Regions from separate parts of the Homo sapiens genome. Here regions 1 and 3 are each linked to region 2. Evidence: fine-mapped expression QTL. A gene starts in region 2. Each other region holds a variant in brackets. All regions are shown on one strand. Distances are from middle to middle. Region 1 has its middle 54 kb from the start of PKDCC. Region 2 holds the start of EML4 (EMAP like 4). Region 3 overlaps EML4 (EMAP like 4).

The links. PIP is the estimated chance that this variant, and not a neighbour inherited with it, causes the effect. A credible set is the group of variants that fine-mapping cannot tell apart.
Region 1: its variant is the best candidate, but not a certain one, in a credible set for the expression of EML4 in whole blood (TOPMed, PIP 0.75).
Region 3: its variant is the best candidate, but not a certain one, in a credible set for the expression of EML4 in sun-exposed skin (GTEx, PIP 0.85).

What each region holds. Positions count from the first base shown.
Region 1 is chr2:42,098,206-42,106,555 of GRCh38, forward strand. No RefSeq gene overlaps it. Among named protein-coding and RNA genes, the nearest start is that of PKDCC, 54 kb to the left of the region's middle. RefSeq lists enhancers at 757-1,076, 1,267-1,326, 2,800-2,879, 3,098-3,925, 3,850-4,369 and 1 more and silencers at 1,447-1,536, 3,060-3,439. The variant C/G (reference allele first, on the strand shown) is at 3,475.
Region 2 is chr2:42,165,101-42,173,730 of GRCh38, forward strand. It overlaps EML4 (EMAP like 4), which reads left to right and starts at 4,253. Exons shown (of 23, transcript NM_019063.5): 1 at 4,253-4,536. The coding sequence starts at 4,512. It overlaps EML4-AS1 (EML4 antisense RNA 1), which reads right to left and starts at 5,131. Exons shown (of 4, transcript NR_110584.1): 1 at 4,870-5,131. RefSeq lists enhancers at 3,835-3,974, 3,987-4,639 and silencers at 4,055-4,104, 4,205-4,264.
Region 3 is chr2:42,280,335-42,288,964 of GRCh38, forward strand. EML4 (EMAP like 4) reads left to right here. Exons shown (of 23, transcript NM_019063.5): 7 at 516-639; 8 at 2,489-2,638; 9 at 4,300-4,369; 10 at 5,935-6,045; 11 at 7,893-7,988. Among named protein-coding and RNA genes, the nearest start is that of COX7A2L, 77 kb to the right of the region's middle. The variant T/G (reference allele first, on the strand shown) is at 3,839.

The DNA.
Region 1 (8,350 bases), 67 kb before region 2:
CCTGGGTGACAGAATGAGACTCCATCTCAAAAAACAAAAAACAAAAACAACTTTCAGAGGTGCTACAGCTAAGTCTGCTGTGAATGTGGACAGCTGTACTTCAATGCTACAAGACACAGGAGCAATGAACCGTGAGCTTCAAAGGGTCCACACACTGATGCTCTTTCCATGACAAGATAAAAATAAGGCCACACTGAGACCTACCAGGTGCCAAGTACCTCCTGGCCCTAACTCCCCCCACCCCCACCAGGCTCCTGGCCTCCTCAATCCTCAAGGACTGACCACCTAGAAAATCTCTCTCCTTCCCTTCCCTCTCCTCTGCCATGCCTTTCCTTCCCCTTCTCTTCTTTCCTCTGCTGTTCCTTAAAGCCCTGGGGCTTCTGCCCCCAGAACCCTGAGGGGAAAGTCAAAGGGCTGAGGGAGCCCACCCGCTTCTGAGCAGTGCAATGAGGAAGTGATGATCAGAGGTCACTGTCTTGGTCAGTTCCTGTTTCTGAAGCAAAGATGCCAAAATCTGTTCCTTTTTCTTGTGAAAAAATATTGGGGTTTTGACTTTCAAAATTCCCGGAACCAATGCTGTCACTGTGAGTTGGCTGCGTTTCTGTCTGCCTGTGTCTGTGTGAAAGGTCTGCCAGGGCCTCCTAGGCCTGCTCCTTGTGGAGGAGTGTCCAGAGGCAATGTTGGAAGTGACATCTCATTCCCTGACGCTCCTGAGTCCCACAGACGCCCATCAGGCCGGTCTGAGGAGGGGCAAGTGCATCAGGACAGACCTGGCTCGGGTCTCCTATTTCCTCCCAGGGCCTGGCAGAGGACTTGCTCTGAAGGGAGCCCCTCCCCAGGCCTAGATCAGGCTACTTGGAAGTCCCTGAAGTGGTGGAAACTTCAGCAGGCCACTCGGGCTCAGGTGATGTGGGCTAAGTTGGGAAACTCCATCTCTGTTCTGCTTCCGAGCTTGAAGCCATCCTACCCTGGAGGCAGGCAGACAAAGCCACCACCATGCTTGCCCCCAGCCTTGGGCCAGGGCATACCTCCCAAGCCCTGGTTTTATTTGAAATGGCTGGACAACACCACTTCATGTAGAGATCATGGATCCATCCACCTTGTGGAGCCCTAAGCTGAGAAATGAGGTACACCAGCATGGGGAGCAGAGGTGGGGGGATGGTGGGCTACAGAAACAGGTGCAAAGCAACTAAGCCAAACTCAGAGCCTCAAGCCAGGGTAAGAGAGAGAGAGTGGGGGTTGGCATTGAAGTTAGTATCAAGGTGTGCAGTTCAGAGTGGTCTTGGGGAAGCGGTGGTGCTAGACCCTCTGGACTGGGCCCACCTCGGAATGGCAGGTAAGAAAGGGCAGGGCAGGGTCTGGGTAGCAAGTTCTCTGTGTATGCAGGAAGCAAAGATGAGAGCTTTCTAGCAAGTTTCACATCTGGCCTGTGTTTCCTCTGGTCTCTGCTTTCATTTATACTGTCCCCACCCAATTCCTTCCTCTTTCTCTCATTCATTCAACAAACAGGTGGTGCATTTACTGTAAGGCAAGCACAATTCTAGACAGCAGGTTTGGATGTGTATCCCCTCTAAATCTCATAATGAATCGTAATCCCCATTGTTGGAGGTGGGAAGGTGTCTTGGTCATGGGGGTGGGTCCTGCATGGCTTGGTGCTCTCCTCACCATAGTGAGTTCTCACGAGATCTGGTCATTTAAAAGTATGTGGCACCTCTCCCCCCATGCTCTCTCTTGCTCCTCCTCTGGCCATGTGAGATGACAGCTTCCTCCTTTGCCCTCCACCATGATTGAAAGCTCCCTGAGGCTTCACCAGAAGCTGAGCAGATGACAGCACCATGCTTCCTGTAAAGCCTGCAGAAACATGAGCCAATTAAACCTCTCTTCTTTATAAATTGCTTAGTCTCGGGTATTTCCTTATAGCAACGGGAAACTGGCCTAAGACAGTAGGTCCACAAAGTTAATAAAAGATTTAGCCAATCTCTGCCCTTATAGAGCTATTGTCAAGCTGGGGAGATAAGTTCACAAGCAAATATTCATGATCCAGTGTGAAAAGTGCGATCACGTGGCCGTGGAAGCAGATGGAAGGAGTAGAAGTTGCGGGGATCAAGGAATAATTCATAGAGAATAGACGCCATTGGAGCTGGAAACCAGAGAAGGGCAGGAGGGTGTCAGTACAGCAGTCTGCAGCGGGAAGGGTTTAGGGGTGCAGGGCAGATGGTAACGCCTCTCAAACGCCACTCTTGACTGGATCTGACATCCTAGTGGAGACTGATGGAGGAAAGAGATCATGGATCCATCAATCAGTCCCTGTTCCAAGTGCCAGGGGCCACCTTCCTAGCAGATGTTATAGGGGACCCAATCTAAGACCCTCAATTCACCTTCCCCTCTTCCACTTCCCCAGCCAAATCATGTTTTTGCTTGTGTCCGGGGGAAGCTGGGAGCTTTCTCAAGCTAACCCAACCCCCAGGTTTTCCATCTTCTCATGCCTCCACTCCCCAGTATAGTGTAAAGCGGCCTCCTCACTCAGGCCCAGGTCAAGACTGACCTCAGTGCCACCCTCCCGGCTCTGCCTCTAAACTTCACCCACCACAATGCAGCCAACAATCTCACAAGGGGCCGGCCTCTCTCTCAGGGCAAGCCTCATCCCCTAGAAGCCGACTCCGCCTGGCCCACCATGCCTGCAGCAGAAAGGCCTGAGGCTGGGCCTAGAACACTGAGGACGTCAGTGGCCAGGACTTTCCAAAGCTGAAACTGGGACCTGCGGAGGCCTCACTGTCCGGAGCAGCGTCCAGGTCCTCAGCATCCTCTTCGCTGGGCCCCACGCGTGTCGTGCGCCACCCCAGAAGGCAGGGCCTGATTCGGATCAGCAGGGGCTGCAGGGCCGCTCTGCAGGTGGGTGACTCAGGCCCCTCTTGAACCCTTAGGCCTGAGGCAGAGACTGGGCAGGAGGCTGGGCGTGGCCGGGGAGCCCCTTCACGTGCTCCCCTTCTCGAGGGTTCACGGGGCTCTGGAGGCCCAGATGCTGGCAAAGTGGCGGGAGCGCTCCAGGGACGAGGACTCAGGTCGGGGCGCCCCCGCCAGCGCCAGGATCCCCGCTCACCCTCCGCCGCGCCCCGCCCCCGCCCCGACACACTGGGGGAGCCCCGCCCTCCCCGAGGCCCGCGCGGCGCCGCAGGAGGAATCCCAGCCATTTCCTCCACGCTGCGCGGTATGTGGCCTGCCCGCCGCCAACCGCAGCGCGAGCCGGTCCCCAGCCGCGCCTGGCAGCTGCCCCGGCTCCGCCGTGCTGCTCGGGATTCCGGGAAGGCCGCCCCCTCGTCCCGGGCCACCAGACCGGCCTTTCCAGCGGCTCCAGGCCCGTGCAGTCCCGCCGGACGCCGGCTACACCACGCGCCGCTGCTGGAACCTCTCCCAGCCCCGCGTGGCCGCCCCCGGCCCAGGCACCCCCTCCCCGGAACGCCCCCGACGGCCCCT[C/G]GCGTCCGAGCTGGAAACTGAAGTTGACGCTTGCTCCGTCACCCTGGGGCAAATTGCTTTGCCTAAGCCTCAGTTTCTCCATCTGTGAAATGGGGACGTTGGCAGGAGTGCCTGTCTCGTTGTGCTGCCCGAGGGGTGAATGAGAAAAGGAAAGCGTTGGACTACTGTCAACGCGATTTTCATTTCCCTAGGTACCACGAGGGTCCTGGCTTTTCGCACAGGATCTTAGCACCCACCCTGCCCCTCGCCTCTCCTCCAGCCCAGTTGCCGGTGGAGCAAGCAGGCCGGGCTTTGCGAGTGGGCAGAGGAGAGGGCTGGGGCCTGCCCAAGACTGCGCCCTGCACAGATTAAACAATGCCTGAAGGTCCCACGACACAGCCTTCCTCGAGATTCACCGTTGCCCTCTCCTCAATCACTAGGTTCTTGAAAGACCCAAAGGACAGTTATTTACATTTTTTTTAAATGATGTCATCGCAGTCTGAGAGCAGCCAGACACGTAGTGATCAGGGAAAGTCGAAAGTGCAGATGGGTTCGCAAACGTGGACTCTCTAGTTTTGGGTCTGCAGATGGGGCCGGCCACCACGTGCTCTCTGAGTTCTCTTTCCAAGTACAGATCCCTCCGGAGACGGAACATTGTTCCGCCTTTAATTCTTCCCAGGAGCTGCGGAGGAAGGCGTGAGAACCGGAGCCCGGGGTGACTTGCGGGGGAGGGGATCGCTTCCCCGTCGCCCACACCTGCCTAACCCACGCCCACGGCGGCCGCAAAGGCGACACCGCGTGAATCTGGAAAGCCCCGAGTTTCAACAGGCCCAACCATCGGCGGCTTTGCAGGCGCAGCACCAAGTGCTGCTCTGCCTGTGTTCCCCCAGACAGCCCCTGGTTGTGATTTGTCGTTTCCAGTCCAGCTAGAGTCCCAAGGCCAAGAACTAGACCCTTGCAGCGAGATCCGCGCCCCCCCCCACCCCACCCCGCCTCATTCTCCACAGGCGCCACAGCCACAGGCCGCATAAATAAATCCAGGTGGAGGCAGACCCAGAAACCCAGGTGCTATAAATATCCCAGCCCAGCCGGGAGACTGACCTCCCAGGCAGCCCCTCGCCCCCACCCGCCCTAGACCAGCACTTCCGGCCACCACAGCGCTGAGGGCGGATCTCCCCGCGGTGGGAGGAGCGGGCTCCACCAGGATGCAGGCCTGGCTTCCCTTTCTTTCTTCTCCTGGGAGCCTCTGGCGGCCCAACCTGAGGGCTTGCCCTCTTCTCTGGAACCACCTCCCTAACTCTCAATCGCATACCTCTCCCTCCCTCCCCCTGGTATTTTTAGAGAGGCCTTCTCTCAGGGACCCCATACTGCGACCAGACTTCAAGAAATGCTGACTTCTCTTTCTAGATGAATAAGCATAGTTGGAAGGCAACAACCTCAATCAGAGTTTACAATCTAAAATTTGATTCTAAACTTTTTCTTTTTGAAACAGTCTTGCTCTGTCACCCAGGCTGGAGTGCAGTGGCGTGATCATGGCTCACTGCAGCTTTGACCTCCCAGGTTCAAGCGATCCTCCCATCTCAGCCTCCCTAGTAGTTGGGACTACAGGCGCTGTGCCACCATGCCCGCCTGGCTAATTTTGTGTTTGTTTGTTTGTTTGTTTTTGTTTTTGTTTTTTTTTTTGAGACGGGGTTTCACTATGTTGCCCAGGCTGGTCTCGAACTCCTGGGCTCAAGCGATCTGCCCACCTCAGCCTCCAAACATGCTGGGATTACAGGTTTGAGCCACTCTGTCCAGCCCTTGATTCTACATTTTTAATAGCATTTTTTATGTGATTAAAACACAGGCTGGAGGCAGAGTAGACCTAAAAGAGGGGAAAGAAGAAGCTGAAGGCATATGCAAAGAAGAGATAGAGCCACACTAGAAAAGAAAGCTGCTCTACCAGAAGGCTGGTACCTAGGAACTCAGTGGGACTTTCTGAGCCCAGTCTCCTGGGTCTGGGACTTGGTGTGGTGCAGTTCAATAAATCCCTATTGTGGGGGGGGGGCGGGGTAGAAAAGATGTGAGATACCTTTCCTCACCCTTCATAAGGGTCATTGCTATAGCAAAAGACTGATTAACAAGAGAAAAGCATAGCAAATTTACCGAATCAAAGTTTTATGGGACACAGGAGCCTTCAGAAATGAAAACCCAGTGACCCAGGGAAAACTGTCTATTTTTATGCCTAGGTAGAAATACACACTGTCCATTCTTCGTTGAACCTAAGCATAAAAATAGACAAAAGGATGCGATCTAATGGTAACAGACTGAGGGGAGAAACCCAGCAAGGCCTGTCTGTTCAGATTCTTCTTGGCCTCTCTGAGCAGCATTCCTTCCTCCTGGGTGTGGGGCAGGGGCTTTCTGGAGCACGGGTCTTATAACTCACAGTCAGAGGTAGATCAGAGAATCTCTTCATGGCCAGTGCCTACACAGAAAGGCAGGGGGAACTTAGAGTAACAGTTCTAGATTTTATGGCTTGCTTTGGGGGAAAGGGATTCTAGTTATTATGACCTGCCATAGGGAAGAGGAATTCTAGTTTCTATGAATTCAGGGAGAAGAAGGGGTGGGAAATAGGGCAAGAGAAGTTCAGAGAGAGATTTTACTTCTGAGACTGCTTCTAAGGCCTTCCAATCTCCTTTAGTTCAAAGTACTCAGCACGCCAAGGCATTATACTTTGACTTATCATTTTCTGAGCCCCAGCAAAATTTAAAACATAGTGAGTGAGTCTTCTAAACATGAAGTCACACCCCATTTCTGATGTAGAAGCTTACACTTTAGGAACTGCTACGGAAGCACTTTGCAAGCGCCATCTCACTGAATACTACTTAGAAGGAACTATTAACTCCCCGTTTTACAGATTAAAAATCTGAGTTTAGAGAGACTAATTAACTTGCCCGAGGACACCCAGCTAATAGGGGAGAAGTTTGAACCCACGGATCTGATTCCAGAGGTCATGTGTTAAACCTGTGCTGTACAATAAACTCTGCCAGTCTCTCTGATCAGAGATGGAAAGGACTCTATTGCAGTCTTCAGCCATCCTTCACAGTGAGGAAGACCTTCCTGTTACACTCACCTGCCTTTAGTCGACCTGAGTGATTGCATTCACATTGAATTCGATGGCTTTCCTGAGGGACCCAGGCAACCTATACTGAGGAAGAAACTATCCATAGGAACCGGATTCCAAATGAACTAGATGCAAGTCACCAAGGCCAGAGTCAGTCCTGGGCCAGCCTTTCCAGTATGATTTCAGGACCACAGGGCAGCGCCACTGGCATTTTTGCCAAAAATCAACCATAAAAGAACCATTGTGCTTAACACCAAACACATTTAATCCAAAAGTGTGCTTCCATTTATGCATGTCACTGCTACCTCACCTTGGTCCATGGTCCAAGGTGACTCAAATATGTATTTTATCTGGTACACCTAGCGTTTTTTTAAAAACGAATTAATTACCAAAAATTTTAAATTGGAAGATTATACCGAAATATCTGGATTTGTAAACAGTTTCCCCAAAACTAAAAATCTGGCCACACTGACCTGTATTCTGCAGTCTACCACAGGCTCCACCATCCCATCCTGTCTCTTTCTCTCACCAACTGCTTGGCCCACCCCTCCTCTCACACCAAAATGCAAATATTCCCTAAACAGGTAACTATTGAATCTAACTAGTCACATCGCAGCATGGAGATCTTATTCTGAGAGCTGGTTAAGGGAAATTAATTGAGGTAAATTACGGAGAGAAAGCATTGCTCCGCCAGACAGCGTCAGGCCATGGCCAGAGCACAGCAGAAAAGATTTCTACAGTTCTATAAAACCACAAGACGAGAAGTTGGTGTTTAAACAGCTGTTATGAAACTAGGGTGTGTGACAGAAACATCACCTGTTTCCCAAGAGCTCATCCTCTCACTTAATTCAGCAAACACCAAGCTTTTCTTAGCATCCTGGGCCCCCTTCCCTGCAACTCTTCTTTGGCAGTGCCTTGGGTGATAGTCAGAGGCAAAGTCTGGAGGTGATTAGATGGCTGCCGACTTAGGCTATAAGCGAGTCCAAAGGAATGGATCTGGCTTTTGATCAGGACAAAGCTACGTCCAGAGGAGAAGCTGAGTGAAGAGGAGGCACCAGTGATAAACTTGGGTTTGAGCAGCCAGGATGGAAGCACGATCTCATTCACCAAGATGGTGAGCAGCTGTGTTCTCTGAAACACAGACCACGTGAGCAAAAATTGTCTTCCCCCAATTTGGAGGCTCCTCCCGCCAAAGCAGTTTAATGGGCAGGCAGAGAGGAGGCAGAGTGAGGGAAGGTTTTATATGGAAATGTGGGAATGAATGAAAAGGCCTTACTTAAAAGGATCTATCTGATAGCCCTTGGGACAGCCTCAACCATCCCCAAATGCCTCTCTGGGGGGTGGGGAGGCATTCAGCTCTGTGGATATTTGAACTCCGACTGTTTTTGAAAGTCGCCCATGTGACAAATGTGTCAACAGAGCCCCGGATGTGCCCTCTGGGGTGGGGAGGAGGGTGGATGTGATCAAGTACATTTCAGGCTTTCAGAGAAACAGGAAATTCAGTAATCAGAGAGCAAAAAATCTATTCAATCTCTTTTAAAGCCAGTGAATAATGTAGCAGAGTCAGAATTGTCACAACCGCTGGGTGCAGCTTTGGAAAAGATGAAAGATGAGAGAATAGGAGAGGAGGAGGAGAGGCCCCTGCAGCTGGGATCACTCAGAGACACTCTCCTAACCTTCTCCTTCACCATCTGGTGGGAAGAAGGAGCCCCTGAAACTTCTCCTCGACCCCAACACTCACCGCCTCGCCACCATCATCTGCCTTGCATCCAAAGAAGCTCATCTCATCGTGCC
Region 2 (8,630 bases):
CTTCATGGAGAAAAATTTTACATTTATGATGGACACATGAAAATTATTAGCTATTATCTCTAAGGCTTGCGCAACATCCAGTAAATGTAGTAAAGCTATAACACATAAAAAGAAACTTTAAAGTTTGTTCCACAATCTCAACAAGTTCAAATCTCATTTCATGGCATAAATTCTGAATTAGCATTGGGAAAACTTAGCTCTGCAGGCAAGGCTAGTTGTCTTCTTTCTGTAGGTCATGGATGGCACCATGAGAAATGCCAAAATTAACCTCAATAGGCATTCGTTCACTCACTCATGCATCTATGCAGCAGGTCCTCCAAGTGAGGTATGGCTTGTGATCCCCACAGGATAGATTTCAGTCTCATAAGTTCTCACCAAGAATTTACAGCACTACTAATTGCTTGATTCTTTCCTGAAGTCAGCAAGTCTGGAAAGTCTTACGAGAGAGATAACCATCATGCCAAGATTGGTAAAACAGTTATTAAATAAGTATGATATTTTAAACCAGTCTCTACAGACACAGTTTATGAGTGTCTAAATATGCAGTGAAATATATTTTTTGTTTTTGCATTTTAATGTTTTCAAAAAATGAATACTTCTATGATTAAAATAAAATAAAAGTGAAATCCCCCATATCTCTCCTCTACCCTTTCCTTCTTCCACTTAATTTCATTTCTCAGAGGCAGCTACTTTTGACACTTTGGGGTATCTCCTCTCAAACTCCTTTTATTTCTCTTGCAATAATTTTGAAGTTCTCCCTAGGCATTCTTTATGGTTAGAAGCTAGAATAACATTGCCATTTAGCTTCTTATAGATTTTGGAATTCTTTTACACACTGCTTACATTAAACATATTATAAAAATGAAGAATCCCTTTTTTCCCCCACTCAGGTATTAACTCTGATTTTTTTCTATCAAATTTGTGCTTACATGGACTACAGGTTTATACAATCTATATAGTTCCATGACTATAGGGTTTCATTTTTTAAATAACATTCAAATAATGAAATAAAAGGAACTGAAGACACAGCATACTTAAAAAAAACCCTTAATTTTCCTTGGCATTTATTTTAAAATGTCTGCGGGAGAGAAAAGCAAGCAGACAAAAACAGTTTATAGTTACTTTTCAAGATCATCTAGCTAGTGAGAGTAAAACAAAGAAATTGAATAGGAATCTTATTTTTCTTCAAACGTTAGGTCAAGACTTTGACAATGTATCTTCACAAGTATTCTGAAACTCCTCCCACAACATACTAACCTTGACATAGAGGGGAAGGTAAGTATGCAGAGTCAAGATTCGATGTATAAAGAGAATGTTCTGGCCAGGCATGGTGGCTGAAGCCTGTAATCCCAGCACTTCAGGAGGCCAAGGCTAGGCGAATCACTTGAGGTGAGGAGTTCGAGACCAGCCTGGGCAACATGGCCAAACCCTGTCTCTACTAAAAATACAAAAATTAGCTGGGCATGGTGGTGCACAACTGTAATCCCAGCTACTTGGGAGGCTGAGGCATGCTAATTGCTTGAACCCGGGGAAGCGGAGGTTGCCGTGAGCTGAGATCGTGCCACTGCACTCCAGCCTGGGCAACAGAGTGAGACCCTGTTTCAAAAACCAAAACCATAAAGGGAATGTTCTAAGTTTTCATTATTTGATACAGCTATATTTAGCCTTTTCCAATAACTGGGATCCTGAAAAACGGCACATATTTTGCATTTGCCTGAATTAAGTTATACTTAAGGAGCTCAAAGGGGCAATGGAACTCCACATTGAAAATAATCTAAAGATAAATCCTTTGTTAAGGTGAATAACCAAAATAACCCTCCAGTAATTCGTAACTGTTTAGAACCTTAGTATTTGTGTGTGTGTTTGATAATGTTCAGCTATGGTTTCACTTTTGAAAGATGTATGTTAAATTTTATTTTATCATAGTAGTATTAGAGGCTTAGATTGCAAGATGTACTTTGATAAATATAAAACAAAAATTCTGGCTGCTTTAAAACACTCAGGCACTGGTTGTTGAAACAATGTATTCAGATTGACTAGTTTTCAGAATTCTTCTATGTTTGTTCATTATTCAATAAATATTTATCAAAAAGCTGTTCTGTAATATGCACTAAGTATATAATAGAGAGCAAAAACAGGTACAAAATAAGAGCAGCTAATACCTACTGAGCACTTATAACATATTGTGCCCTGTTTTAAGTGCTTTACATATATTACCTCATAGCATCCTCTCAAAAACTCTAAGAAGTAGAAGTGTTATCATCTCCATTTTGCAGTCAATAAAATGGAGGCACAGAGAGGTTAGGTAATTTGTCCAGTGTTTCATAGCTAGTACATGATGAGTTGGGATGTGAATCTGGGCAGCATGATTCCAGAGTCTGCACTCTTAACTGCTGGGATGTACTAACTCTCCTACATTTTAACAGCTTTCCTTGTAGTATACAGTATAATGAATGAGATGCTTATTGAATAAATCATTCAAGCAAATGAAAAATTTTAACTCTGATGAATGCCACGAAGGGGAGTGTGGCAGAAACCAGAGAGCTGTTACCAAAATATGTCTCTTTTCCTTCTGGATACACAGACTACATTCCTAGCCTCCCTTGCAGTCATGTGACCAAGTTCTGGCCAGTGGAATGTGGACAAAAGGGAGGTACACACTTCCAGGTCTGGACCATAAAACATATGTATACCAATATGCCAAGTTCTTATTCTTTTAATCGACCTAAGGCAGAGAGTGTGGCCTGAAGACACAAAGGAACAGCTGTCAGAATTGAGAACTTCTCAAACATTTACTTAGGCTTAATAGAAACTTATGCATATGAAAATGCCCATAGCAGAAGGAACATTGGGTAAATCATTTAAGTTTGAAGAGAAGGAAATTTTAGACACCGTTTAGTCTGTAACCTGAATTTATCTTGGCTGCGTTATGGCCAGTCTCCATATAGTATGGTATTCAGAAACAGGTCTTATATCCAAATAAGAAATGCAAAGTAATTTACATTTTTAGGGAAGATTTTTAAAGAGGCAACAAAGGGAGACGTATACCCCAAGAAGGTTTAACAATCCTTTCAATCATTTAATTCCTCTAAGTCTCTCTCATCATTACATATTTCTTGTCTCCCTTCTTGTTTGTCCCTCTCTCCTGCAACTCTGTGTAGTAGGACTCTGTTTTCCCCTAACTCAGCTTTTTATTATGTATTTATCAATTTATTATGTATAGATCAATTCAGTTCTTCAGTACCTTACAGCTCTTCTCTCTCTTACTCTAATCTGCACAACTGAGCCCCAGGAGGGACTTGACAAACCATGAGAAAGTCTTTAGAAGTATGGGAAATCGTGTTGGGGAAGGGAGGAAGAATATGAACGCTATGTATATTTACATGTTTTGGTTACATGTCCAGACAACCAATTTGCAAATGAATAAAGTGACGCCTAAATAAATTAGGTGATTTGACACTCTTGAGTCATACGGAGTTGGGCCTAGAACTCAGTGTTACTTCATTTGAAATAACCCTTATTATGGTTCCCTAGCAGGCCATCCTATAGCCTGCCATATATGGTCGTTTTGCACCCCTAGACGACAGAACGCTAGGGAGAGTAAGGAAGGCTGAGTTTTTGCTTCTACTAGGTTCGATGACCTTGGGCAGGTTGTCCTCTCTAAGGCTCTGTGTTTTTCTTCATAAGAAGGGTTAGACAAGATGAACTTTTGGGTCATGTCCAGCACTAAAATTCCTTGCTTCTGATCTGTCCCGGGCCCTGCGGCTGTGGCAGTGGTGGTATCGAGCTAGTCAAGAAGCTTCGCCCCTATTTGTCCCCCACCCTATTGGGGGAGAGGGAGAACCTCTCCCTCTTGGTTGCTTCTTTAGTGTCCTTGTAGGACCCACGTGGTGGTCATCTCCCGTCACGGGGGTCCAGTCTTGGCTCTGCGGGCTTCCCAGGGGCCACATAGGGAGAGGATCCTTCATGCATCAGAGTATCGCAGGCCAGAGTCTATGCCTTATCCCCACCTGTTTGGAACCAGCTTCCAAACCGTGGTCCCCAGCCTTCAGCAGGCCTACCGCGCAGGCGCAACCACCAGCCTGGCGCGAGGCGGACAAACGCCGAGGCCGAGGCAAGGTGAGAGGGCGGGGCTGGCAAGACCCCGCCTCCGTGGCGTCACGTGGGAGGCGGAGTCGGAAGTGTGACGGCGTGCGCGGGGCGGGGCTACTGCTGCGCGCGGGCGCGGGGGCGGGGCGGGGCGCGGCGCGGCGCGGCGCTCGCGGCTGCTGCCTGGGAGGGAGGCCGGGCAGGCGGCTGAGCGGCGCGGCTCTCAACGTGACGGGGAAGTGGTTCGGGCGGCCGCGGCTTACTACCCCAGGGCGAACGGACGGACGACGGAGGCGGGAGCCGGTAGCCGAGCCGGGCGACCTAGAGAACGAGCGGGTCAGGCTCAGCGTCGGCCACTCTGTCGGTCCGCTGAATGAAGTGCCCGCCCCTCTAAGCCCGGAGCCCGGCGCTTTCCCCGCAAGATGGACGGTTTCGCCGGCAGTCTCGGTGAGTACGGCTGGGGAGTCCTGCGTCTTCTGCGAAGGGTAGGAACTTTTTTCCTTCCGCACACAGCCCAGGCCCTGCCCTCCCGCCTGCCCCTCGGGGTGGCAGCGGCTCCACTGCACATGTTCCCTTCGAGGCTGCCGCCCCTCCGCGGACTCCGGTGGACTGAGGGCCCCTCCCCCATGTCCAACTCTCCTCTGTGTCAGACCCTCCTTTCCTCCCGGAGCCCCTTTCAGTGCGGGGCCCTCGTTCCCCCAAAGTGGGAACCCCTTCCTTCTCAGGCCCCCCGATAGCTGGCACACCCCTCCCCGTACACTCACGGCTCCCTCCACTTACCCCCCTTCAGAGTTGGGACATTTCTTCAAATCCAGGCTCCTCTTCAGGGTACAACCTTCCACCACCTTTCCACATACACGCCTCTCTTTCAGGGTGGGGATCGCCTTCACCCGAACAGAGGCTCCTTTTTAGGGGAGGGACCCTCATTCCCTCTTCAGGAAGGGGGCATCCCCCGCCCCCAAGTCTTCACTTTAGATTTGAAGGCGACTTTCCAGTATCCTTCAGAGTAGTAGGCAACTTCCTTTTCAATCCCTCCACTTCTCTGAGCATTTTGCAGTGGTGGAGAGACCTAGAAGCATCGGAGCATCATTTGCTTAATGCAGGAAAGGAAGAGGTGCATCTGTGTTGGGGGACCCTCTTTAAGAGTGAAAGCAGAAGTGTTTTCTGGTTCTGCATACATGCTGGGGAGAAGTGATTCTGCCCAATGAATCAATAGGAAAGGGGGCCTCTATCAGGGAAGGAAAGGATTCTCCATTTTTGGAAGATGTTGTCTTTGTGGAATGGAGAAAGGGAAGAGGTTATTAAATAGGCTGAAGTGCCTTTTCAGTGTTCCTTTCACCAGATGAAGGTAATCTTCTGGCTAGGAAAATCAAAACTCCAGGCTAGTATTCGCTGCCCTAGAAGCTGAATCTGGAATTACTATTCTTCGAGGCCATTGAAATCTAGTAAAAGATTAAGTTCAACTGTTAGAATGGTGAGAGAAACAGTTTCAGCTTTGGCTGATAACGCAGTTGTGTGATACCTACTGCTGGAACTGTATTTTGAGTTTTTTATGTGCAGGTAGCTTGTATTCAGACGCCTTTCTTTTACATTTCTTGATAATAAGTCTCTACTTGGTTAATGTTCACTGATCAGTGAGCAGTCTGGCCATAGGCCGTACTATATCCAGATAATATCGAGATGAGATGGATTTTTAAAATCTAAAGTAAAAAAGTAAGTCAAAGAGCAATGGGCCTATTATAGATATTAAATAGTAAAACCTATAATTTTGGCCTTCCCTTTTTCTTGGGCAGAAAAAATTGTCGTTATATTGCTTTCAGAGTGGAAATCCTAAAATAGGAGGCAACTGAGTGTTGTGTTACTCTTTCCTCCTCAAAGGCACCTGTTGTCCATTATCTAACCTTTGATGTCTTGTAATTCCTTACTTAGGTTGGGCTCTTTTTAGAGAGACATCCATTTTTCCCTGGTTCTTTTTTAGCTCCATGCGTTGGTTTATTCACAGTAAGTGTTGGACCGAAAAACTTGTCCTATATGTCCGCTGAAGGGCTGATCTTATACTAAAGTAAAAATTGAGTGTCTTCTTAGGGGATGTTGTGGAGAGCTGTGCTATCTTTATACTGTATTGGGTCCTCATCCTGTAGGAGTGGTGAGATCACTTTAACTTCTTTCGTGTTGGCTCTAAAGATTTCTGGAGGGCTTGTTAAAGCTTCATCTTCTGTAAGTGTTTAGGAGGAGTCTTTCTCACCAGTTGGGGCACTTAATGTTTATTTTCAAACATTGATTATGCTTTGTAATAGCTTTCTTCTTTCTTAACCAGTTTATGAGGCAAGTGATACAAAAGACCGAGAGATGAAGATGAATTGCAGTTGGGGCTCACACTTTTCATAAAGAGCGTCATTGTTGACCCTAATGTTGGATTTAAAAAATTCATTTGATGCCATGCTTTGGGTGGTATGTGATGAGACTTTCCTTTAGATATGGTGTTAATCAGGAGCAGAGGAGATATGCCTATCAGAGGAACCTGCATCTGCAGAGAGGGAAGGAAATGGTTCCTGGCAGTATTTCTGGAGCTGTTCTTGATGAAGATACTTCTCAGTGGGAGCTCTGTGCTTTCTCTTTCTGTCCCCCTTGCAAGAGTAAAACTAGGCCCCATCTTAATTGAAACCTTAAAGGGGTGGGGGAGGAGTAGTGCTGGTATATTTTACTGGTAGTCTTTAAGCGGAGCTTTGCTCAGCTCTTGCCAAATTGCTTGTTTCTGTTCTCTGCAGTTAATTAGCCTAGAGCTTAGAGTTACATTGATCTTTATTTTACCATCAGGAGAGCCATGAATATAAAGGCAAGCACTTCTACTCTAGTAGGTGTTTAAAAACTTTTTTTTTTTTTAAACAAGAAGTCAAAACGTGAAGTTCTTCTGGGGTTACAACTATTGAAAGCATTTATTCTCAAGGAAGTATGTGTGTATTTCCTTTTACATATTAGATAGATTCTTGAAAAATGGTGAAAAAACTACATTTTTATAAGCAGAAAAATTGAGTACTTTATAAACAGAATAATTTTAGAGAAGAGATTATTTCAGAGAATCCTATGGTGACTCATTTTGTGAAGTGAAAACTTAAAATTCAAACTGTACCCTTGATTGTTGCATGTTTAGATAAGAAATCCACTGTGTTATGTGCATTTTATAAGATGTCTAATGGCAATTAAGACTAGGTAGTGGTTTTTTAAATCATAGGAATGATAAGTGATTGGCCATTTTATAAATGCCACATTGAAGTTACATGGTACTGATTATGTTATCTTTGTTTTACATAAAAAACAAGTGAAGAATTCTTTTAATCTCCGCAGCTGATGAATTTCAGGCAACTTGGCTGGCAGGTGCTTGTACTCTGGAATTTCCCTTAGGTATTATTAATATATCTTTTAATCCACAAATTATGGTAACTTAAGGCAGCACTTTAGAAACCTTTTTTTTTTTAAACTTAGGAGAGAAAAGTACTCAATTACCTTGATGTGTTGCCTCTAAATCACTACATATAGATACCCATGTGCAAAATGTATATACTGTATGTATATTAAATCTCAGGTCTATGTGCAAAAGTGGGAAGCTATTCATACAGCTTTTACCGATTTTTTATAAGGCAGGGATTGGGTGCATTTCATGCTTAATCTTTTTAGAATCTCTTTCATAATAGAGGTTTAATTTTAAGACTTTTATCTTGGAATTAACCTAGAGATTAGTCTGTTTTCACTTGAAAGAAACCTTATACCTAACCAGTCAGCTTTAAATTTTTCTGCCTCAAAAGTTAAACAACAAAACTTAAAATCTTCTTCCCCCTAAGAAAAATCATAGTGAATGAAATTGTTGGATTAGGATCTATAAGAAACAACATTCTGGGTACAGGTTGTAAATGTGAACAAGTATAGCAGTATGCTTCAACTTATGGACTATTCAGAAATTAGTCTTTTTAACATCACATTGTTAGAACTGTGATTTCTCATCACAGATAATAGTCTTGCTTTCTTAAAGGAACAATGCTGTATATGATTTTCACATATTAATCTAAAGCATTCCTTATTTACATGAAAATGTTTTTCATGTAATATTTGGAGAGGTTTTTTTTTTAAACTTTTTTTATTGGTTGCCTCTTGAAGAGTTCAAGATAGACTCAAGTTGTGTAACCAGACATGAGTAGTAACTCTTAAATGGTTAGTAGAGCATCTTCAACATGAGTTAGCTAGAGTGTTTTTCAACATATGTATGGATTAACATCGAACATGGGCTAGCACTATGCTTGGTGGTTCTTATGGGAAAGACAAGTAAAAGACATGCTTTTTGCCCTTTAGGAGCTTACTGCCTGGTTTTTAAATAAGTACCATGACTAGGTGCAGTGGCTCACGCCTGTAGTCCCAGCACTTTGGGAGGCTGAGGTGGAAGGATCGATTGAGCCCAGTAGTTTGAGACCAGCCTGGGCAACATAGCAAGACCCTGTCTCTGCAAAAAAAACAAAAATAGGCATAGTGGCATGTGCCTGTAACCCCAG
Region 3 (8,630 bases), 120 kb after region 2:
CCCTACAATGTTTTAGACTAGGACTTTATAGTATCACTTTGTTTTCTGTATGCTGTGTAATGTAGTTGGCCCTCTGTATCCATGGGTTCTACATCCACAGATTCAGCCAACCATGGGTTGAAAATATTTGGGGAAAAAAATTGTCTGTTATACTGAATATATGCAGACTTTTGTCATTATTTTCTAAACAATACAACAACTATTTACATAGCATTCACATCATATTATGAGTAATCTAGAGATGATTCAAAATATACAGGTTATATGTGAATACTATGCCATTTTGTATCAGGAAATTGAGCATCCATGGATTTGGGTATCTGAGGAAGGTGTTCCTAAAATCAGTCCCCCGTGGATACAGGACAACTATATAACAAAAACAATTGTATATAATGAGACTAAAACTTTGAAGTAGTCATTTTTGTCTTGTTTTTATTGTATCACGTTAATAATCCACTTTTGTATGACTATACAGAAAATACGTATGACTTAACTTTTGTCTTGTGTTTCAACAGAAGGAGAATATATTAAAATGTTTATGCGCGGTCGGCCAATTACCATGTTCATTCCTTCCGATGTTGACAACTATGATGACATCAGAACGGAACTGCCTCCTGAGAAGCTCAAACTGGAGTGGGCGTATCCTTCTCTACCATGACAGCAAATTCATTTGCTTTGTCTCTAGTTAACAAATCAGTTAACGTATTCTCTGTCAAAATTGTCTTTATACAAAAAAAAAAAGTAACAGCTACTTAAAAAATTAAAAAGGAAACATCAGGCCAGGCGCGGTGGTTCACGCTGGTAATCCTAGCACTTTGGGAGGCCGAGGCAGGCGGATCACAAAGTCAGTAGTTCAAGACCAGCCTAGTCAACATTGTGAAACCCCATCTCTACTAAAGATACAAAAAATTAGCCAGGTGTGGTGGTGCATGCCTGTAATCCCAGCTACTCGGGAGGCTGAGGCAGGAGAATCACTTGAACCCGGGAGGCGGAGGTTGCAGTGAGCCAAGATCACGCCATTGGACTCCAGCCTGGGCGACCGGGGAAAACTCTGTCTCAAAAGAAAAAAAAAAAAAAAGGAGACATTATCTCTAATTCTTTGCTGTTAGCAATTTAAAGCCATCAAAGTTTATATCTTTGGAAAGGATAAACAATATTTTTTGAACATCATGGCAAGTACTTGCTAGAAAAGGCACTAGACTGGAACTGGAAGACTAGTGTTTGAGTTTTGGCCCTGCCACTTACTCTCCGTGAACCTTAACTTTCTTTACTTATAAAAGGGGTTAATTAATAACCCATACCTCACAGGGGCTGTTGTAGGAATTAAATAAGAAAACATCAGTTAAGCATTTTGTAACCTCAAATTAACAAGGCTGATTCTAATTCAGAATTAACTTTTCAGCCAGACTTTTTTTTAAATGACTGTTAAAGGAGAGCTTTCCTAATTTCACCTAGAAATTTTCACTTCTTTTAGAACCTCCAAGAAACTCAGTGAAACAGAAGGAGTTGGTAGTTTGAACTCTGTTGTCTGCCTCCATTCTCCTGCACTTCCTCCCACGTCCCTTGAATTATTCCCTTCTTAGGCAGATATCAGCTTGGACACACTCACCAATCCTTTCATTCTGTACAACATATTTTTAACAAACATTCTGCCTACCAAACTGTTCCTTGCTATTACTTATTTATCATTTAGGTCCAGCATAAATATCCCTTTTCCAGATAGGCCTTCTTTTGGTCCCTCCCTTCTCTCTCTTTTTCTCTCCATCTAAATTAGGTCCTCCATTTGGGCTTTCTCCTAGCAGTCTTTTTTTTACCCCCCCACGATTTGTAATTTTATATTTGGTGATTTTTTTTTTTCTTTGCCAGAGGATAAGCTCTAGAGACATAGGGCCTACATTTTTTTTGTTCAGAACTGAATGTTCACCATTATGCCTGATACACATTAGGATTTCAATACATATTTGTCTGGTAAATGAGGAAACTAAGATCTTAACATACTGAAAGAGTCAGGTTACGCTAGGGATAATGGCAGGATATGAGTTTTCCTTTTTTTTGGTGGAGGGGTGGGGGTGGGCGGCAACAGGGTCTCTGTGGCCCAGGCTGGAGTGCAGTGGCACGATCACTGCTCACTGTAGCCTTGACCTGACCTCCTGGGCTCAAGTGATTCTCCCACCTCAGACTCCCAAGTAGCTGGAACTACAGGCACAGGCCACCATGCCTGGCTAATTTTTTTTATTTTCTGTCGAGATGGGGTCTCACTATTGCCCGCACTACTCTCAAACTCCTGGACTGAAGTGATCCTCCCACCTTGGCCTCCTGAAGGGCTAGGATTACACGTGTGAGCACTCTGCCCGTCCAGGACATGAGTTTTCTAGTTCTAGTTCAGTCTTCTTCATTGTACCTTCCTAATTCCTTAAGTATCCATGAAAAATCTGTTAACAACTTGAAAACTGTGTTTATTTAAAACCTTGACTCTTTTTCTGTTAAGATATGGTTATCGAGGAAAGGACTGTAGAGCTAATGTTTACCTTCTTCCGACCGGGAAAATAGTTTATTTCATTGCATCAGTAGTAGTACTATTTAATTATGAGGAGAGAACTCAGCGACACTACCTGGGCCATACAGACTGTGTGAAATGGTTGGTATCATTTAACATTGGTTCATTTTTGTTCTTTCAGGCCCTCATTTTGTATTTTTTAAATTTGGGTTTTATTGAAAGTGATTTCTTGTGGAAAGCTCAGAATGTAAAAATATTATGGGTCATCTGTTGAATATATTTTAAAAAGAAAAAAAGGACTTTCGGCCTCCAAAATGGTGGTGTGGTATCAGCAGCAACAAAACACATCCTCCATAAATCATGATTGGAACCTCTTCTGCTTTCTCATGTCGTACAGTCCTTCTCTTCTCTGGTCTGTAGTGTGAAACATATATGGGACAGACTGGACATTTTCAGGTTTCTGAAAGTGATTATTGGTTACTCGATATTTATTGAGGATTTGTCCTATGTAGATAAATTTTATACTTGAAGCTTTATTCTTTTGGGAAGAAAGAAATCTAGCTGAATAAGGATCATAAGTATGCCGTAGGATGTCATACTACAAATGTGAGAACTCCTTTTAAATGCTTTTAAATTATTTTGTTACTTTTTAGTTAAATGCAATTATTTATTGTTTATTAATATTTTCCAACTTTTATTTTTTATTTATTACCCTTTTCCCCACTTAGATCCAAGGACTGACTGGATGTTTTCCAACATTTAAAAGCTTTTATGTCTGTACTATGCTGGCACCTGTATCTTTATCCAGAAAAAAATTAATAGATGACTATTATAATATTATATAGATATTGAACTTTTGGAGTTGATTAAAATATTGCCTTTTACACTTGCAGAATAATGTATGTACAAAACTATTTACTGCAGCATTGTTTGTGATGAAGATTAGAAACAGCCTAAGTATTTTTCAGTTGGGGACTACTGGTGAGGTTGTAGTGTACCTATAGGTCACCATGTAGCTGTAAAGAATGAGGAAGCACTTTATGTATTAATATGTAAATATCCCTCTGATGTGTTCTTAAGTACAAATATTTAAGAGCAAGAGAATGTTCACAGTGTACAACCGTTGTTGAAAGAGTCTAGATATGGACATAAAGATGTCTTTTTCAGAAATTTGCTAGTCACTCATATACGTGCTGTGAGTAATTTAGGCACATATGCTACGCTACTTCCCATTTCTATTTAAAAATTCCTTGCCTCAGTTTGACTTACAAGAATTTAGCGCTAAGAACTAATTAAAAGATTGAAAGCACTATGTGTGAAGATGCTCATTGCTGTTTTCTT[T/G]TGTTGAAAAGTAAGAAATGGCCTAAAAGATGGAAGAGTTGTCAAGTCAGCATGTATGAGGATTATGTAGCAAAAGGAAAAAATGCTTGTACTTTAATAGATTAAAATTAAACAGCACAATATTGCATCTTCACTATAATAAAGTCGTGTGATTTGTATGCCATTGTGCGTGGACTAGAAAGGAACTTCAGCAAATGAAAACAGTTCGTTAGCATGCCACAGTTATAAATATTTTCTTTGAACTTAGTGTTTCATTAATCTGTGCAGCTTAACAAGTAAAAAGTACAGCTGAAAATTCAGAAATCTTCAGATATTTGATGATTGTTTGATTTGCTGAAGAAAACAGATAAACGTATGTTTTTTAACGATTAAAAACTGCTTATTTGAAAAATGTCAGTACAAAGGTATTCTGTTGTTTCATGTTTCCTGTGTTTAAAATCATTCTTAATACTGCTTTTTAGCCTTGCTATACATCCTGACAAAATTAGGATTGCAACTGGACAGATAGCTGGCGTGGATAAAGATGGAAGGGTGAGTGGCATAGTGTTATGCCTTCTGTACCTAGAGACATTGCTGTTAGAGTGGAATCTATTGTAATTTTAACCACAACTCATTTGTTTTATTCTTTTAAAATTTAAGTACTGAGGAATTTCTAGTATAAGCATGGAAAAAACATTAGGATATAAGAACACTTTAAAAGACAGAGTCATACTAATAAATTTTGTTTTTAAAAAATAAGTGTTCTCCCTTAAGAAGCTATTTACTGTAAAAATGGGAAAACTGATACGCTCGTTACATTTTCTTTATATAAAATAACATATAAAGTAACCAGTGTCTGCGGGAAGGTACTGCAGTTTCCCTTAGTTGATGAACCTGTTGATTCTTATTTACTTTCTTAATTAATTAATTAATTAATTATAGGGGTGGAATCTCACTTCGTTGCCCAGGCTGGGCTCAAACTCCTGGGCTCAAGTGATCCTCCAGCCTTGGCCTCTTGAGTGAGTAGCTGGACTACAGGTGTGTGCCACCATGCCCGGCTAACTCTTGATTTTATGTGTGACTAGAACTGATACAACTTAAAGAGTTACAGTTACTATTTAATATTATTCAGTTGGTTTGTATAACAAATACCTTATTTCTAAGGATCAACAGTGACTATTAATGGTGACTGAGTAACGTATGTATGACTATACTCATGACATTCTCAGGCTTCAGTTTCTTTAAAGAAAAGGAGTAGAAGGTTTCTACTGGATAACTTCTAAGACCCCTTCCAGTTTCAAATGCTATTTAAGGGCTGTTTAGCAGTTTATTGGACATTGATAAAATGTGTTATTTTCTCAGGAATGAAGATTAGTAATACTAAAAGCAAAAGTATCCGGAGCAGATTTGCCTGGATTAGAATCCTGACTCCACCTTTTTTTTTTCTTTTTTTCTTTTTTTTTTTGAGACGGAGTCTTGCTCTGTCTCCCAGGCTGGAGTGCAGTGGCACAATATTGGCTCACTGCAACCTGTGTCTCCCAGGTTCAAGCAATTCACCTGCCTCAGCCTCCTGAGTAGCTGTGACTACAGGCGCGTACTACCATGCCTGGCTAATTTTTTATATTTTTAATAGAGATGGGTTTTCACTCTTGTTAGCCAGGATGGTCTTAATCTCCTGACCTCATGATCCGCCCGCCTCGGCCTCCCAAAGTGCTAGGATTACCGGTGTGGGCCCCCGTGCCTGGCCGACTCAACCTTTTAATAGCGGTATCACTTTGGGCAAGTTATTTAAATCTCTGTATTCCAATTTCTTCATCTGTTAAATGATAATTATAATAGTGTACCTGTAGTGCATAGGATTAAATGAATTAATATGTGTAATACTTAGAATAGTATGTGTAACATAGTAAATACACAAGTTATTTGCTGCTATTTTCTTATTTTCACAGTATAAGAAAATACCTACTTAAGATTCATTTGGAGGCATGTCTAAATCTAGTAATTTATTAGAAGCTTATCCATCCCTATTACTTTTTTAAATGGCATTAGTTCTGTGTGCTATTGGTGTTTATTTGCATCCACCTGTCCAGTTGCTCTGCTGTCTTGTGTTTTTGCAGCCTCTACAACCCCACGTCAGAGTGTGGGATTCTGTTACTCTATCCACACTGCAGATTATTGGACTTGGCACTTTTGAGCGTGGAGTAGGATGCCTGGATTTTTCAAAAGCAGTAAGTAACAATTTTTAGAGAAGTAAGCAAGCTGAACAAAAAAGCAGGAAAGAAGTTAAGCTCAGTTTTGTGTTTATGTGGCCATGAAGTGATAATCCTGAGTTGAAAAATGAGATGCTAGCTATTGCTAACATATTAGCTATTGCTAAATGGCTAGCATTTTGACCTAAGTCCTAAAGTACTTTGGTTTAGTTAGGATGCAAGATATTTTACTTTAATTATTCTTGGAATTATGCTGCCTTGAGGTAGAGCTCCCATGTAGTAGCAGGAAGTGGTTAGAGGAATATATACAAAGCATAGTACAATTTCAGACAAGCAATAGGATGCATTTTTGCCTTACCTTGAATCATAGAAAAGATCTATTTTATTTTAAAAATTCACAGCAAACTTGGCCAGTTCTGTACAAATATTGGCTTTTCTTGATGTCATATTTGAGCAGCAGAAACAATCAGACCTTTGTATTTCCTGAAGTCCTGAATTATCTTGGTTTTGAATTGATGACAACATGGGTTTAAAATTTTCCCCAGCAGTCCTTTCTAAGTGTTGAGGCTTTATTCTAAGGGTAAAATAAGACAAGATCTTACTCATTTAAACATTCTGGTTTTTTCTTGAATTGTATGTAATTATGATTATAAAGTATACAGTCAACCTTCTATATTTTAGGATACATACTTTTTTAGTTTCAAAGATAAATACCCCTGTAGATTTTATGTGACCTCAGTTATATATTCATATTATCTCTTCAGTTCTTAGCCATTGGCAACTGTATTCTGGATTATGGGAGTTTTGTGGGACATGGAGGAAAGGACACTTTTAGAGCAGAAAGATAAATTTTAGTGAATTTAGGAACTTTGCTAGCTTGAAGGCACTGAATGTCAAGGGTCCAACAAGTCAGGAATTGGGAGAAGGACATTTAGAAAAGGAGATAAGAGGTCATAAAGGCAATACTTTTGCTACTTTATTTTCTCCCATAAATCTCTATAGCAGGAACTGTTGTCAGGTTGTTGATAACCATTGTTACGGTGTTAAGACCATCTTGAATTGCCTCATAACTCTATCTTTTCTAATTCAGATAATATTCCAATTTAGGCTAAGAGATAAAGAGGAGAAGAGAGTAAGCTCTGCCCTTCCTCAGTGCCTCTCACTCTTCACTACAATGTTTCTCTGTTCCATAACATTGTAAAGCATATTTCACAAATGATACTATTTTTAAAAAGCATTTAATATCATCTATAGGTATTTTTCTTAAACTGGAATACTTAAAATACGTGAATGAGAATGGTTTCAGAAAAACAGGAAATTTCATTATAAAAAAGGAATTTCATTATAATTTTACTTAGGTTGTTTATTCAAGTTAATGTAAGTCAGGTATCTCACAGAAAACTGAAATCAGCAAACTCTAAAATAGCCATGAATTTTAGCTTATTCTGTCAAACTGTCAAAATTTAGTGAGGAACAAAGTTATGAAATTGTGTACATTTCTTCTTACCTACCACAAGGAAAAATAGCTTAATACAGGCAGCAAGAAGGAAGCATAAGATGCAGAAGGGACTAGGATAGCCTCAAAATTAGTCACTATCTCTGAATAATAGGAGTGACTAGATGGCAAGTGGAAATAACCTGGAGGGATGAGGGGATTTAAATAGAATATTTTGTAAAAGAATCTTTATATTTTTGAGGAAAATACAATTGTAGTAAATAGTGTATTCATTATGTTTCAGAGAGCGATGAGTTTAAAGGATTTTGGGTTATCTTACTATTTGCAGTTTTAATAAGATGGTATTTCTTTCTTAGAATGTTAGCCCTATCAGTGAATTTTAAAATGCCTCTGATTGACTTTTCTTTAGGATTCAGGTGTTCATTTATGTATTATTGATGACTCCAATGAGCATATGCTTACTGTATGGGACTGGCAGAAGAAAGCAAAAGGAGCAGAAATAAAGGTAAATTTTTAAAAAACCGAGTATTGTGTTTTAGAGTACGTTACTTGTTTTGCAGGTATTTGGAACTATATTGGTATTAGAACTATCTATTCGTAAGTCGCAAAAGCAGATCTACTAGCCAAATTCAGCAAATTTAGTGATTTGTCATAATCGTTAAGATATTAACACTATAGTTATACAAGATAAAATAGTCAAGCAACTTGAAGCAATTTCAATATTTCAGACATTACTATAGTCCTGAAATGCCAGAGTAGATGGATGTGTGATCTCATAATTAAGACTGAACACACTTCTTGGTTTTCTTCTTTAATAAAACATGTAATTTCATTCCATCTTTAAAGCTTTAGAAATCTAGAGGAAAAATTCAGTAGGAATACGACTGATGTAACTGAAGGGCTTATGTTAAGTTTTTTGGTCTTAATTGTGTTTGTAGGATTATTTTAGAAAATTCAATAGCATTTATAATTGCTATAATTGCATTATAACTCTTTACAGTACAAGGGTTGATCTCTGTGTAGATCAAGCTGTACGTTGTAAGAGAAGAATGTAAAATGCATTGAAGCTGGGTTTATATGAGCCAGAAATGGACTTCTCCCTCTGACAGGCATTTAAAAAGATTCAAAGTGATAGAATGGCTTTAAA